Linked DNA regions of Homo sapiens: region 2 is linked to region 1. The links come from fine-mapping of genetic effects on gene expression. Tissue or cell type: whole blood. Region 1 holds a variant in brackets; the other region holds the start of a gene. All regions are shown on one strand. Distances are from middle to middle.

Region 1 (8,098 bases):
AGGAGGTAGGATCCAGACCAGTGGGCAGAGGAGGGGGAGGCCATGCTCCTTTGGGGCCATTTGTGTGCCTGGCGGTGGCCCCCATTGTGTCCCCAAGTGGGGTTTATGGTGTTGCCGAGGGCTGTGGGGGGCACGCCCAGTATCTGGAGCTTCTGGGTTGATTTGAGGGTTGTTCTGTGTGTCCAGGCCATGTGGGTTGGGCCACGGCCTGTGGCTAGGGTCTTTATGGAGCAGGATTGAGCCACATGTGGACAGGGTCCCTGTGGAGTAGGATTGAGGCCCCCTAATCTCCCAGCTCATTCTGCACAACTTTGGTTTTGCTCTGATTTAAAAATGAACAGATTAAACTGAAGTAAATATTTCAAGCTGTTTTTAACAAAAAAAAGGTGTTATTCATCATGCACAGTGCCCTCACTCAGATGACAGACAGCAATGAGCTTGGCTCTGCGGGGGCAGGCAGCTGGTGGCTGAGGGTGAGGCCAGCATGACATGGCTCTGATTTACCCAAAATGTTTAATACTTGCCATTTTTTTCTTAGTCTCATTTAATGTCTTTTTTTTTTTTTTTTTTTTTTGGAGACAGAGTCTCACTCTGTTGCCCAGGCTGGAGTGCAGTGGCGCAATCTCGGCTCACTGCAACCTCTACCTCCCGGGTTCAAGCAATTCTTCTGCCTCAGCCTCCCGTGTAGCTGGGATTACAGGCTCCCATCACCATGCCCAGCTAATTTTTGTATTTTTAGTAGAGACGGGGTTTCACCATGTTGGCCAGGCTGGTCTCGAACTCCTGACCTCCGGTGAGCCACCTGCCTTGGCCTCCCAAAGTGCTGGGATTACAGACGTGAGCCACCGTGCGGGGCTGTTTAATGTCTTTTTATGGAGATGCATTTTGTAGGGTGATGAGAGATGAGAGCAGAAAACAAAATCAAGCACCAGGGCCCCAGGTATGCGTCTTCCACATTTGGTTTATTTGATGAAGGAGTTCATGGCTAACAGGGCCCTATAGCCCAAGTGTGACCCAGATCTTTAGAACTGCGGGCCCTCCCTCAACTCCATCTCACCCAGTAGCATGAACCCTAAATCTACTATGGAGGCCTTAGGGAGAGAGGGTGTAGGAGGGTGGCTGCACTCTCATACCTTCCTACATCTGCTGGAGCCCAGGGCCCCCATCACAGGCAGCACCTGCTCCTGTAGGCTACAGACAGGGTCACGCAGGCGCCTGGAAACCGCTGCCAACTGCCAGGATTGGGTCTGCACCTGCCCCGGCCTCCCTGGCCCTGGGTGATGGGGGGAAGCCAAGAGGGGAGAGTCCCAGGGAACGTGACCCCCAAGTGTGTGGCTGCCCCGCCCCTCGCGGGTGTTCAAAGGCCAGGAGCCCTGGGATATTGGGAGGATGTTTCAGTATCCCCAAACCTGAAGGCACCCAGACTTCCAGAAAAGGCTGGCAATGGAGAGACAGGCAGCTTCTTTCTAAGCTGCATCATACCAGGAGGTCGCCAGGGGCACAGAGCTGCCCAGGGGCAGTGTTTCCACAGGTTTGGGCTATGGAAATGGGGACTTCTGGCCATCCTTCCTCTCTGGCCTTCTTCCAGCATCTCCCTCCAGGAGACACCAGTCCCCTTTCCCCATGGGACCACTCAGAGTCATGTCCAAGACCTTCCCCAATGGTGGTCTTTGCTGACATCTTAGGGCAGCCCCCACCCTTGCCACTGTGGATGAAGAAATCTCCTGGGGTGGTGGGGGCTCTGCTTCCTGGGGTCTCACGTGGCCGCCTCCACCCCCTCACTTGGTCCCCAGCTGCCTGGAAACCCACCCTAGATGGACTCAAGTTATCTGCAGATGTGTTTGACAGAACAGCAAGGATGTACCTGCAGTTTTGAAGACCCTGGGCTGGGCGGGATCACCACCTCTGCCTTTTTAGGGAAGGGACCCACAATTCCCAGCACTCATTTGCTCTTTTGCTGCTCAGGGACTGTCACTGCACAGGCCCTGGGGCCTATGGAGGAGTCACAGACTCTGGACTCAGGATGGGGCCCCAGGCCCCAACCAGGCTCTGGCCCAGCCCAGGGAAGATAATAATGCCCACCTTATGGAAATCCCACCCCAGGAGGGTTCAGGACAGACCCCAGGAGTGTTCAGGACAGAGCCCAGGAGTGTTCAGGACAGAGCCCAGGAGGGTTCAGGACAGACCCCAGGAGGGTTCAGGACAGACCCCAGAAGGGTTCAGGACAGAGCCCAGGAGGGTTCAGGACAGACCCCAGGAGGGTTCAGGACAGAGCTGGCCACAGCCGGGTACAGCGCCCAGGCCCTCTCTCCTTCCTTCCTCTCCTGCAACCATTCTTCCTACTTGAGAGTAAGATACAGAGACCTTGCTTTTTGCACTCTCTGGAGAATGTGTGACTGGTGATGTTCTTTCCTCTTATTTGCTTGCCTGTTTTCTAAATGTTTGATAATGAATTTGTTTACTTTGAAATAAGCAAACAATACCAAAAGTTATTTTTAAAAGGACAGCCTCTAAGTCCATGATTACAATTTGGATGATGAGCCAGTGTGGTCGAGGGTGTTCTGATCCTCACACAGCACTGGTGACAGACCTGACCAGGGCACGTGGAGGTGCTTCCACATGGCAGTGGCTTCTTGGTCCTTCAGAAGGATGGAGGCCACCAATGGGCCACGGAGCTGAGTAGGTGGACAAAGCAAATGAGCAGGAAGGGTGGGCTGGGAGTGAGGGGAGGGTGACTGTGGTCCCCTGGATAGTCTGTTGTAAAGAAGCCACCTCGGCTGGGCACGGTGGCTCATGCCTGTCATCCCAGCACTTTGGGAGGCCAAGGCGGGTGGATCACGAGGTCAAGAGATTGAGACCATCCTGGCCAACATGGTGAAACCCCATCTCTACTAAAAATACAAAAATCAGCTGGGCATGGTGACAGGCACCTGTAATCTCAGCTACTTGGGAGACTGAGGCAGGAGAATCACTTGAACCCGGGAGGTGGAGGTTGGCGTGAGCTGAGATCGCGCCATTGCACTCCAGCCTGGGCAACAAAAGTGAAAGTCCATCTCAAAAACAAACAAAAGAAACAGGCAGCTTCTCAGAACACATCTGTCCTCCATGTCCACGGGCGCATCCCACCCCTGGCCACCACCGTGTGGCTTTTCTCCGTGGAAGCAGAGGCCATGCATCACTCCCACAGGCAGCCTCTCTCTGACGAGCCTCAGTAGTAAATTCATGCAAGAAACAAAGAAAACTGCTCCTGTCCTTCTTCAGTGCTGTGCGGAGGAGCGAGAGGGAAAAGCCAACCATAACGCCATTGCATGTGCTGCTGAAATGCTTTGTGCAAACGTTGAGACTGGAGGTGAGGGCGGAACTTTGTAATATAAGAGCAGTAAGATAAATGTTGATTTTAAAATCCAAGTACTTGGACTTTGCTAGAATATTCCATAATCTTTTCCTGGTCTTGATTATTAAACAGTTTTCAAGAAAGTTCTATTTGGTGAGTCACCTGATGATCTAAACACACTTTTCTTTCTTGTTTGATTCCAGCTGGGTCACCTGCCAACAGAACCAAGCCCACTTGGGTTTTGGAGGCTTTGGGGGCTGGCTGGTTTCCCTGGGCATGATTGGTGACCTCAGGTCAGATTCCTGGACTTGCTGGGGATCCTGTGCCCAGGAAGGCACCAGCCCAGGAGGCTCTGAGCCTCAGCCAGGGATGCAGCAGGTTGGTAGCACCTTGGCAGCCATCCCGAGGACACAGGTAAGAAGCCAACAGAGAAGCAAGAATGTGTCTTATTAAAGCTGCTCCACTCCACAAGCATCTCTGGAATGTTCTCTGGGCCCCGGATCTGCGCGAGGCATTCTGGGTGAGACAGAGACGAAGCCGCTTGAGCTCGGAAGCCGGTGCTCAAAGAGCGTGACGTGGCCTCACCCCATTCCTCTGCAGGGCTCAGCTGGCACCTGCACCCCCGAGGTAGCTGGGGGCCCCTGAGCTTGGCCAGGCCCATCTGGCAGCCTTGTCCCTGCTTGTCCACCCCCTCTGGGTTGCGTTCAGCTTCCTGAGCTCCCCCTCTTCACCCGTTCCTAACACAAGAGCTTGTGCACCCCAGGATGGTGGGGATGGGGTTCTGGCTCGTGGGCAATCTGGGTGTCAGGCTTACGGCCCCAGTGGCTCCGGGTCATGGCCTTGGCCCCACAATGGCTGTGCTGCCCCATCAGTGGTCTCTGCAGCTGGGGAAATGCCTGGTCCTTCTGGAGATACAGGAGTGTTGGATTCCCCGATTATGGCCACGTCCTGTTCCTCTGGTACCATCCACCCACCAAGTCTTGCCACGGTTTCCCTCTGGGCCTCAAATCCAGCTGTCCATCCCAACATCTGTCTCAAGTGGCCTCTCCTGTACCCAGCTGCCCAGGAAGCGATCCAAAGGCTCCGTCCCAGGCTGCTGAGGTGACTGAGGACCTTGAGAGGGTCCTACACTCTCAGACCAGGGTGAGGCCGAGGCCCGAGAGGCAAGTCCCTGCCCAGGCCCTGGCTGGCCAGGACGCGCTGGCCACAGCTTCCCAGAGTGGACGCTGCCCTGCACCCGCCAACACTTCCCCGTCAGCTTCCCGGTCCCACACCGCTCCTGCTGGCAACGAGGTCGCAGCATATTAAATTCTCGACGCAACTACTGTGTGAAAAAGCCATGCAAACCAGCGAGGAGCCTGCTTACCACAGGGGCCCTCAGAGGGCTCTGCTGCTCCTCGGTCAAAACCTCCTTTAGGCAGTGACTCTGGCAGCTGCCGGCTGGGCTGTGTCCTGAGAACTG[A/G]GGCTGGGAGGGGCCAGGTGGGAGGGACCTCATCCTCCAGGCGCCCACTGGCCCAGCCCTGAGTGTTCACGACAGGTGCAGGGCTCCCTCCCCGGCCCCCTTCTGGCCAGGGCAGCCACAGCTCAGCCCCGAGGCCTTGAGTGGCCTTTTCAGAGAAAACCAGGACCTGGGGGCTCCTCCCGGGAGCCTCTGACCCCCAGACCCATAAACAGGCTTCTCTGTGGGGTCCCTCAACCACTACTTTCCTCTCACCTGAGGGGACCAGCCAGACAGCTCAGGCACCCGAGTCTTTAGGGAATGAGCTCACTGCCCTCTCCACCCACAGCAGGACACCTGGCAGCCAAAGCCCCACACCTGCCCCTATCCCAGGACTGGGACGAGGAAGCCCCAGGGTGAGGGGTGGCCCTGATCTGAGCCCTAACCTGGTGGGGGTGGCAGGCAGCCCCAGGTGTGTGGATGACCTGAGCCAGGCACAGACAGCTGCCAGGTGGGGAGGAGCAGAGGTCATGGGGATGTAGGGAAAGGGTTTGGGGGTTCCTCCCACAGGGCCACTGTGTGAGACAATTTGTCACTTTCTTACAAAACTAAACACACTCTGACCACAGCATCCAGCAATCTCACTCCTTAGAGTTTACCAAAATGAGTTGAGAACTTATGTCTACAGACACCTGCACATGAATATTTGTAGTAGCTTTATTCATAATTGCCCAAACCTGGGAGCAACCAAGATGTCTTTCCATAGGTGAATGGATAAATAAACCATGGTACATCCAGACAATGGAATACCATTCAGTGTTAAAAAATAAGTGAGCTGGCCATGCAAGGTGGCTCACGTCTGTAATCCCAGCACTGTGGGAGGCAGAGGCAGGCGGATCACTTGAGCCCAAGTGTTTGATACCAGTGTGGGCAACATGGTGAGGCCCTGTCTCACAAAAAATACAAAACTTATCGGGGTGTGCACCAGCACCTGTAGTCCCAGCTATTTGGGAGGCTGAGGTGAGAAAATCACAGGAGCCCAGGAGGTTGAGGCTGTAGTAGCTGTGATTTCACCAGTGCATTCCAGCCTGGGTGACAGAGCAAGACTCTGTCTCAAAAAAAAAAAAAAAAAAAAAAAGAAGTGAACTATCAAACCACAAAAGACATGGAAGAACCAAAGTGCGTATTACTAAAAAAGAAGTTGAAAAGGCTACATAATGTATGAGTCCAGCTCTGTGACATTTTGGAAAAGGCAAAATTAAGGAGACAGTCAAAAGATTCCTGGTTGCCAGGGGCTGGGAGAGGGAGTGATGAAAATGCAGAACACAGATGAATCGGGGCGGAGAAACCCGTCTGTACAATATTAGAGTGGTGGGTCTGCATGATTATACATGTGTCCAAACCTGCAGAATGCACAGCACCGGAGGAAAGCATAATGGAAACTGCAGAGGGCGATGATGATAATAACAACGTGTAACAAATGGCTGGGACGGGAGGACTGGGGAAGGCTGTGCACCTGCAGGAGCAGGGGAGCGGTGGGAGAGCTCCATGCTTTTGGCTCAATTTTGCTATGAACCTAAAACTGCTGTAAAAAATAGAGTCTACTGAAAAAACAAGTGTTAATTTATAAGCGTCTTGTTTAAAGAGCGAAGAGATGAACCACAAAGGGGAAAATGTGTTTAAACAATAACTAATTGACAATTGGCTGGTTCTTAAAATTCAGAGAACTTTAAGACAGAGACAGCAAAGCAGGGATCACGTTTTACAAACGCGGCAGGACCAGGACGTCGTGCCCACGACGGGCCAGCAACCACAGGCTGGATGCTCACCCTGTGCCAGCCTGCAGACGGAGAGCACCCACCCCAATCTCCAGCCCCCAGAGGAGCTGCCTCTCCAGGGCCTTCCTGCAGGTGCCCAGGGGCTGCACATGGCCCTCCTTGGAGGGAGCTGGTGACTCAGCACTTTCATTTCCTGGAAACTGAGGCTCATGGGAGATATGCAGATGAGCCCAGAGCACCATGGGAAATGGCCCTTTATATACCCAAATGGGCTCTGCCTCCTCCTTTCCCTGGGTGCCCACATGAACAGAGACACCAGGATGGTGAGATCTCCCGAGGAGGGGTCTCTGAGGAGGGGTCTCGGAGACACGGCCTGGTGCTGGGTGAGGGGTTGGGAGGCTGAAGCGGGGCCAGGATTCCTCAGGTTCCCTCAGTTTCCCTCAAATTTCCCTCAGTTTCCCTCAGGTTCCCTAAGGTTCTCCAAGTTCCCTCAAATTTCCCTCAGTTTCCCTCAGGTTCCCTCAGTTTCCCTCAAGTTTCCCTCAGTTTCCCTCAGGTTCCCTCAGTTTCCCTCAGGTTCCCTCAGTTTCCCTCAAGTTTCCCTCAGTTTCCCTCAGGTTCCCTCAGTTTCCCTCAAGTTTCCCTCAGGTTCCCCCAGTTTCCCTCAAGTTTCCCTCAGCTTCCCTCAGGTTCCCCCAGTTTCCCTCAGGTTCCCTCAGTTTCCCTCAAGTTTCCCTCAGTTTCCCCCAGTTTCCCTCAAATTTCCCTCAGTTTCCCTCAGGTTCCCTCAGTTTCCCCCAGCTTCCCTCAGGTTCCCTCAGTTTCCCTCAAGTTCCCCTCAGTTTCCCCCAGTTTCCCTCAGGTTCCCCCAGTTTCCCTCAAGTTCCCCTCAGGTTCCCCCAGTTTCCCTCAAGTTTCCCTCGGGTTCCCCCAGTTTCCCTCAGGTTCCCCCAGTTTCCCTCAGTTTCCCTCAAGTTTCCCTCAGGTTCCCCCAGTTTCCCTCAGGTTCCCTCAGTTTCCCTCAAGTTTCCCTCAGGTTCCCCCAGTTTCCCTCAGGTTCCCTCAGGTTCCCCCAGTTTCCCCCAGGTTCCCCCAGTTTCCCCCAGTTTCCCTCAAGTTTCCCTCAGGTTCCCCCAGTTTCCCTCAGGTTCCCTCAGTTTCCCTCAAGTTTCCCTCAGGTTCCCCCAGTTTCCCTCAGGTTCCCTCAGTTTCCCTCAGGTTCCCCCAGTTTCCCCCAGGTTCCCCCAGTTTCCCCCAGTTTCCCTCAAGTTTCCCTCAGGTTCCCCCAGTTTCCCTCAGGTTCCCTCAGGTTCCCCCAGTTTCCCCCAGTTTCCCTCAGGTTCCCCCAGTTTCCCTCAGGTTCCCTCAGTTTCCCTCAGGTTCCCCCAGTTTCCCTCAGTTTCCCCCAGTTTCCCTCAAGTTTCCCTCAGGTTCCCCCAGTTTCCCTCAGGTTCCCTCAGTTTCCCTCAGGTTCCCCCAGTTTCCCTCAGGTTCCCTCAAGTTTCCCTCAGGTTCCCCCAGTTTCCCTCAGGTTCCCTCAGGTTCCCT
Region 2 (8,098 bases), 24 kb before region 1:
AAGGGTTCGTGGCCAGGCTGCCCTGCCTCTCGGGTGCCTGCACCCCTGCTAGGAAAAGTCCCTAGGTAGGGCGGCAACTCCAGCCCTGCCTCTCCCAGCTCCCAGTGCAGCCCACACGCCGGAGTGCAGATGACCTGCAGGGAACTCCCATGAGGGAACTCTGTAAAGCGACCTTCAGACGTGCTATTTATAGATGTCTATAGATTTATAGATGTGTGTTTCTCCAAACAAATAAACCACCAGAAAGTGTCACAGCAGGACACGTCACCAACCCCGGGGACCCCATGTTACCAGGGGTCCTCCTGGAGCCTGGAGTCTGGGCCTGCTGAGGACCTGGCTTGCAGACGGGCTCCGGCCTTCTCGTCCCATTGCCCCAAGCGCTCCAACCCCCTGTGAACATGCCTCTAGTCATCCCTGGGCCCTGCACAGCCACAGGCAGCCACCCGGTCATTCCCATACTCTCACCATGGTCCTGCCTCCACGTGGAAGACCCTGCCAGCCGCAGAGTGCAGGTGTGGGGACACTGTCACTGCTGGGAGGCACGTCACCAACCCCGAGGTGCTGCTGAGGCTCAGGGATGGTCCCACATTGGCGCAGGCTGCGGGTGCCGTGTCCTGAGGTCTGGGTTCCCCACTCCAGGCAGCCGCTATGCTCAGTACAAGTCCAGTCCCTTCTGTTGGAAACCCCACCCCACCCTGTCAGGGCTGAGTGCAAGGGGAGGGAACCCACACCTGAGACCTTTTGTGGCCCCTCACTAACACCCCCTTTCCTGCTGTGACCCCTCAGGGCTGCTCAGATGGGCTTGGAGACAGGCTCGGGCCCCATCTCCCATCATACGTCCAGCATTCTAGATTAGCTGGAAGTCCGACGGGGTCTCCCTGGGTTAAAATCAAGGGGTGGGTCAGGGTGGTCCCTTCTGGAGGCTCCAGGCGGAATCTGTCCCTCTCCGTCTCCAGCGTCCAGAGGCATCCGCATCCCTCGGCTCATGGCCCCTCTGCCATCTCCCCACCACTGCCCCCCAGCTGCTTCCCTCATCTCCCTGACTCCCCCTCCTCTCTCCCTCTCCTGGAGACCCTGTGATGGCATCAAGGGCCCCCCTGGGTGACCCAGGACACATGCCCCAGCTCAGCACCCGAGGCTTCATCCCATCTGCATAGTCTCTTTGCCATGTCAGGTTCTGGGATGAGGACGTGACATCTTTGGGGACTGGTAGCCGACCACAGAACCCCCACCCCCAGTGCGGTGGGAGACCCAGGCCACCTGCAGACCCCTGCATGGAGGTGAGGTTCACACAAGGAGACCCCAGGGGGCCTGGGTCCGGCTCCCTCACCCCACGCTCCACGATGCCAGCTCAGCCACCCACCTTGGAACCGTGCAGATGGACAGCAGGGAGGGTCGGGGCTGCTGGGGGCTCCCCCACTGCTCTCCGCACCACCCCGCCGACCGTGTCCGGGAGGGGATGCCCTGCTGCTCTCCCCAGGCTGCTCTGGGGAGTCCTGCCCTCACCTGGAGCCTGGAGGCCATCTGAGTCTGTTTCACAAATGCTTCCAGGGACTGCCCCTGCCATGTGTTAGGGGTGGGAATTCTGGGCACACAGCCAAAGGTCACAGATCCCCAGAGAGCCCCGACAGCGCTGCGTCCACCCCACCTGCCCACCCAGGTGCTGGCTCTGCCACCCGTCTGTGTCCTGAGTCAGCCCTGACTCGGCAGAGAGCTGCACCCTGAGCCAGACCTCAGCAGCTGGGTCCTGGAGGCCCCCAAGGGCCAGCTGCACGCACCTGGCTTCATGCCAAGCTCCTCCCGCCTGGCAGTGGCTGCATCTGCCTCCCCTCCACCCTGAGTGTCCCAAGTCTGCCCGCTGTGCATTCCATGGGGCCAGCAGCTCGGTGGAGCCTCTGCTCTCGGGGGCTACAGCTGCTCCTAGATGCCTCTGCCACCGAGGGTGGACCCTGCAGTGCTGGCTCCTAGCCTCCCTGCCGATTGCTTCCTGAAGACCTGGGGCCCTGGGCTGCAGTGGTTGGGGAGAGGGGGGTGGGAGTGAGAAGCTGGCACTGTCCGTCTTTCTGGCCTCATCCTCTCCATGGTCTCAGCCCCTGGCGGCCTGGACTGCACCGTTCCGGAGATGCTGCCTCCCCACCAAGTCCCTTTAGCCCAACTGTGGTGGCGGCCGCTGCTTCTCACACGCGGGTCCTCTCACTGCCTCTCCCCGGTCCTCCCTTCCTCCCAGCACCTTCACCAGCTCCCCACTGAGTGCCCTCCAATGTTGGCGACCCTGACCCTTGTCCAGCCAGGGGTGAAGGGCGGCAAGGGATGGGCTGGAGGGTACTAGGAGCAGGTGGCGGTGCCCTTCCTGTCGGTCCACACCCGGCAAGTGGCGGGAAAGGTGTGGAATGAGTCAGCCGTGGAGGGGAGCCCTGGGCCTGGAAGACCCCTGTCTTTGGCTTGAGAATGACTTTGAAGGGCTCAGGGGGTAGGGAGCTGGGGGGAGACCGGGAGGAGAGCGGCAGGTCTGGCTCTACCCCGAGGCTTCAGGCTGCGGACCATGCGTGGCCCCAGCTCTGTCTGGGCAGCAGGTGTCAGCGACTTTGGGTTGCTGTGGGAATTTGCTCCGTTTATCAGAAGAAAACGCACCCTGGCAACACAGGCCCCTCTCAGGTCACCAGGCACATCTGGTCACATCTGAGTCTCAGATAAACAACCAATGATGTCCTGGTGAAAGCTTGTCCCGTGGGACACTCGGGACACACTTATATTAAAACACGATTAACGATCTCAAACTCAGATGTTACTGGGTATCCTGCGTTTTTGTTGGCAGCTCTGCCACTCTGCCCGTCTGCCTGAGTCCTCTCCTGCCATCCTCCTGACCAGAGGCGTGGGCTTGAGTTGAATGCCACGCAGTGGCTAAAAATCAGAGAGAGGGCAGGCGGCAGGGCGCGGCCCCAGGGAAAGTGGCCAGGTGGGCGGTGACTGGCCGGGCAGCTCCGTGTGTGGCACAGGGAGACCTGGCACAGGGAGACCAGGTACAGGGAGACGAGGCGCACGGAGCCTCAAAACTTCTAGAGTGGGCCGGGCGCGGTGGCGCATGCCTGCAATCCCAGCACTTTGGGAGGCTGAGGCAGGTGGATCACCTGAGGTCGGGAGTTTGAGACCAGTCTGAACAACGTGGTGAAACCCCGTCTCTACTAAAAATACAAAAAAATTAGCCGGGCGTGGTGGTGCACGCCTGTAATCCCAGTTACTTGGGAGGCTGAGGCAGGAGAATCGCTTGAACCAGGGAGGTGGAGGTTGTGGTGAGCCAAGATCTGGCCACTACATTCCAGCCTGGGCAACAAGAGCGAAACTCCGTCTCAAACCAAACAAAACAAAAAACAAACTTCTAGAGCGGGAAAAGATGGAGGCGGCAATCAGATTTCTCTCAAACCACGAACACAGGGGTCGGTATCTGAGGCGCCGGCACCAGACACGGCAGGGTCTGAGTGCTCCCTGACAAGCGATGATGCGCAGGCTTGGAGCCATGCCAGTGACACGCCTAGGAAAGTTCACGCACCGCCCAGCACGCCTGCGCATGCCTGTTCCCGCTCCCTGGTGCCCCGGGCGCCTGCCTGTCCCGGCTCCCATGGGTGCTGGGTGTGTGGAAGCTCCGGCCCCCTCGGGCTGGGTTCATTGGGGTCCTCCTGTGTGGTCAGTGGACTCTGTACCCCCACAGCACCTGAGGGGTGGCTGACACTGCTTTCCCAGCTGCTGCAGGGGCTCAGGGAACACAGGTGACCCCACGTCTCTACCGAGAATGAGCACACCAACACCTCTCAGAAGACAGCTGCAGCCTGCAGAGGCCATGGACCCCACCCAGGCCCACGGTGTGGACGGCTCTGCCCTGGTCTCTGCTGAGCCAGGCCCAGAGGGGACCCCAGGTGAGCAGCAAAGCCCCCCAGGCCTGGGGCTAGACCGGGCTAACCCTTCCTGCTCAGCACCTGTTCACCTGTCCCCTCTGCTGGTGGCCTCCTGTCCTCCCGCTCTGGGCTCAGCAGCAGCCCCGTGGAGAGGCCCTGCCACCACCCCCGCCCTGCTGGAGACAGGCCTCCTACGCGGGCTCCTGCAGCCGGTCGCCCTGGGCCTCCTAGAAGCCGGGGATCCTCTGCTGACCACCGGCAGAAAACGTGCTTCTCAAGCTGCAGGTGATTCACCAGTAGTGGGCAAGGAACTGAATGTGGTGATTACTGCGGAGTCAGCAAAACCCGCGTGAGAACGGGCAGCTGAGGGCCTGCCGGGTGAGGGAAGCCTCACGGTTCCTGTTTCATGAGTTTGCTGTGAGTGCACACGAGGCTGTGGCTGTGGAGTGTGCAACAGTCCACGCGTGCCTGCGTGTGCTCATGTGCGTGTGTCCACCAGCTTGTGTGCACGCATATGAGCGAGTGCGTTTTGCTCCCAGCTTGGTCGCAGCGACGGCGCAGGGAACCCCGGGTGAGGCCGAGGACCGGGAAGGGAGGAGGGGGCTCCGACCCATCGGACTTAGGGGAGCCCCGGGTCCGAGACGCCGCCTCTGTCCCTTCAAGAGTCGAGCCTGGCGCACAGGGCAGGGACGCGGGTCCCCACACCGGCCGGCAGCTCGTTCCCGCCCATACTCGGGTACGCCCGCTGCGACCCCGCCCGCCTGGCCTGCGACGCACGCTCAGGGCCAGCGGGGGGTGACGGTCCCAGAGGCAGAGGCGCCGCAGCCCCAGAGTCCCCATCCCTGCGCGGACCGGCAACCCCAGTGCACCAAGAGGCCCTAACACCGAGCCCCCAGCACCGAGTCCCCAGCACCGGGCCCTCAGCACCGAGTCCCCAGCACCGAGTCCCCAGCACCGAGTCCCCAGCACCGAGCCCGCCCCTCTGGTTCCCCCGCCCGCCCCTCTCCGCGCCTCACCGGGTCCGCTCCTGGACGCGCTCCTCTGGGATGCAGCTTCTCCGCGCCCCGGAGCCCCAGGAAAATGAAAGACACGAGAGGGAGGGGCCAGGGAGGAGGCGGCGGACCCGCGCGGGACCCACCTCCCAGATGAGGAAGGAGCTGGGTTTACGGGAAGCCTCCAAGTTTCGGGAACCACCCGCGTTCACAACAAGCGTGACGGTGAATTTATTATTTTCACGGGAGGCACCGCACCCGCGGTTCACGCTAAAGGAAGCAGGAAAGCCGCCGGGAGCATTTTTCCAGGAGAGTTCGTGCCTGGGCGGGTCCAGCTCGCGTGCGGCGCGCGTTCCCCGCGGGGCTGTTTGGCTCCGCTCCTGGAGGCCTCGAGTCTGTGCACGGGGCGAGCTGGGCGGGCCGAGTGGGCCGCGGGGAGGGAGGGCGGGGGGCGGCCCCCAGATGCCTGGGAGTGCGCGGGCAGAGTGAGCTGGACCCCCGGAGGGTCAGAGGCCCTTTCATAAAAGCGCGCAGAGCAGAGGAGTGATGTCCCCCAGCTCCCCCGCAGAGGGTCCTGCACCTGCGGCCTGGGCCTTCAGGCGTCCTGCGGCCCCTGCGGAGGTGCTGGCCTGGCCAGCCCGGGAGGAGGGGCCCAGCCTGTTGGGGCAGGAGATTGGGGTGCGGGTAGAAGGCTCCAAGACGCATCCGGGCCGGGAACCCACAGACATCCCAGGTGGGCAGGAGGTGGCTCGAGGAGGCCTGGAGGACCCGGCGCCTGGCGGGGTGGCAGGCGGGCCACGTCCTCCACTAGAACCCGAGGGGGCACGCGGGCAGGTGCGGGCGGGGTCAAGGATGACCAGGTATCTTCGGGACACTAGGAGGAGGCCCCACAGGCTGCAGTCACGTGAGTGGGCAAGTCCCCACCGGGCAGATGATGGGGGACACTGGGGCGTGGGCAATGCCCCCAGTTTCATGGAAGAGAGGAAGAAGCAGAACCAAACTCCGGGAAACCCTCAAATGTGGGGAATGGACGGAGCAGGGCCAGACTGGACGCTGAACCTTGGAGCCTGCAGCTCAGCCATCAGACCCAGGGTCCAGAGGTGGGTGGCACAGAACAAAGTCCCCCGGGATGTTCCAAAAGAGAAACTGTCGCCAAATTGGCAGGTGAAACACAGCCTGTCATCCTCCCAGCAAGACGGCACCATGGCCGGGGCACAGAGGTCAGATTCCCCAGCCCCCGCCCTCGGGGAAACCCCAGCCACCCTGGCTGCCAGTGAGATGCTGGAGAGGGGGCTGAAATCCCACCTGCCCACGTCCTCTGCACAGAGGGGCTTGTCCCCGAGGCCACATCCCCCAGCAGCCACAGCTTCCTTCTCCTTTTTTCCTGCCTACTAGATCTCTCAACTCAGAGGGGGCTGCAGTTCCTGGGGGCAGGGGGGTCCGGCTGCTTAGGCAGGAGCACCTGCACCGTGAGGCTCTGGAGGGCAGCTGAAGGCTGGCAGGCTTTTGTCCCGTGAGGGGACACCACTGGGGGTTGGAGGAAAACGCATATCCTGATAAAGCATTTCATGTTGTGAAAGTGAAACTAGTTTGTTTATTTTGGAAGTAATACAGGCACAGAAACAAAATAGAATGAAACCAACTGTTGCCTTTTCCTCCCCACCCTGGCTTCAATTCCCAGGTTGAGTTATGGACACTGCCTTACCTATCCTTCTAGAAGTTTTCCTGGTCCATACAAACAGCACAGCCATCCACTCACGTTTATTTCTTTCTTTTTTTTGAGACGGAGTCTCTGTTGCCCAGGCTGGAGTGCAGTGCTGCAGTCTCGATCACTGCAACCTCTGCCTCCCAGGTTCAACTGATTCTCCCACCTCAGCCTTCTGAGTAGTTGGGATTGCAGGCATGTATCACCACGCCCAGCTAATTTTTGTAGTTTTAGTAGAAATAGGATTTCATCATGTTGGCCAAGCTGGTCTCGAACTCCTGACCTCAGGTGGTCCGCCTGCCTTGGCCTCCCAAAGTGCTGGGGTTACAGGTGTGAGCCACCACATCTGGGCAGTATCTTTCCATTTCTTTTTTTTGTTTTGAGACGGAGTCTCGCTCTGTCGCCCAGGCTGGAGTGCAGTGGCGCAATCTCGGCTCACTGCAAGCTCTGCCTCCTGGGTTCACACCATTCTCCTGCCTCAGCCTCCTGAGTAGCTGGGACTACAGGCGCCCGCCACCACGCCCAGCTAATTTTTCTGTATTTTTAGTAGAGACGGGGTTTCACCGTGTTAGCCAGGATGGTCTGGATCTCCTGACCTTGTGATCCGCCCATCTTGGCCTCCCAAAGTGCTGGATTACAGGCGTGAGCCACTGCACCCGGCCGTATCTTTCCATTTCTATACAATGCTGGGATCAGGCATCTTAGAGCGGATGTGTGGATTCATTCACCCTCAGCCTGTCCTTGAATCACAGCCTCTGCTGTGCCAGGTGACATGTGGAGTTTCATTTCCTTTCTGTTCGAGGAATTTGTAGATTTCAGTTATGATTTTCTGTTTAACTCTCCAAATTATTCGGCAGCATATTCTTAAAATCCCCAAGGTCCTGGAGCATTTGCTTTTCTTTTTTTTGGAGACAGAGTCTTGCTCTGTCGCCCAGGCTGGAGTGCAGTGGTGCGATTTCGGCTCACTGCAACCTCCGCCTCCCTAGTTCAAGCGATTCTCCTACCTCAGCCTCCTGAGTAGCTGGAACTACAGGCACGTGCCGCCACGCCCAGCTTTTATTTATTTATTTATTTTATTTTTGGTAGAGACGGGTTTCACTATGTTAGCCAGGCTTTTTTTTTCTTGAACTCCTGAGCTCAGGCAATCCACCCGCCTCGGCCTCCCAAAGTGCTGGGATTACAGGCGTGAGCCACTGTGCTGGCGGCATTTGCTTTTCTTTGTAACTTGATTCTCTGGGTTCCCTTGCCTTTCATCCTTGCCCACCCACGTGACTGCAGCCTGTGGGGCTTCCTCCTAATGTCCCGAAGATAACTCGTCATCCTTGACCCCGCCGCCACCTCGGGTTCTAGTGGAGGATGTGGCCCGCCTGCCACCCCCACAGGCACCGGGTCCTCCAGGCCTCCTTGACCCACTTCCAACCCACCTGGGATGTCTGCGCGTTACCAGCCCAGATGCCTCTTGGAGCCTTCCACCTGCACCCCATCTCCTGTCCCAACAGGCTGGGCCCCTC

What was found. PIP is the estimated chance that this variant, and not a neighbour inherited with it, causes the effect.
Region 2: it holds the start of SECTM1, and the variant in region 1 is fine-mapped to the expression of SECTM1 in whole blood (INTERVAL, PIP above 0.99).

What each region holds. Positions count from the first base shown.
Region 1 is chr17:82,352,413-82,360,510 of GRCh38, forward strand. It overlaps TEX19 (testis expressed 19), which reads left to right and starts at 6,835. Exons shown (of 2, transcript NM_207459.4): 1 at 6,835-6,873. RefSeq lists enhancers at 1-409, 3,477-4,412 and a silencer at 8,021-8,098. The variant A/G (reference allele first, on the strand shown) is at 4,797.
Region 2 is chr17:82,328,794-82,336,891 of GRCh38, forward strand. It overlaps SECTM1 (secreted and transmembrane 1), which reads right to left and starts at 4,973. Exons shown (of 5, transcript NM_003004.3): 1 at 4,907-4,973. RefSeq lists a silencer at 3,316-3,600 and enhancers at 3,477-4,279, 6,327-6,396.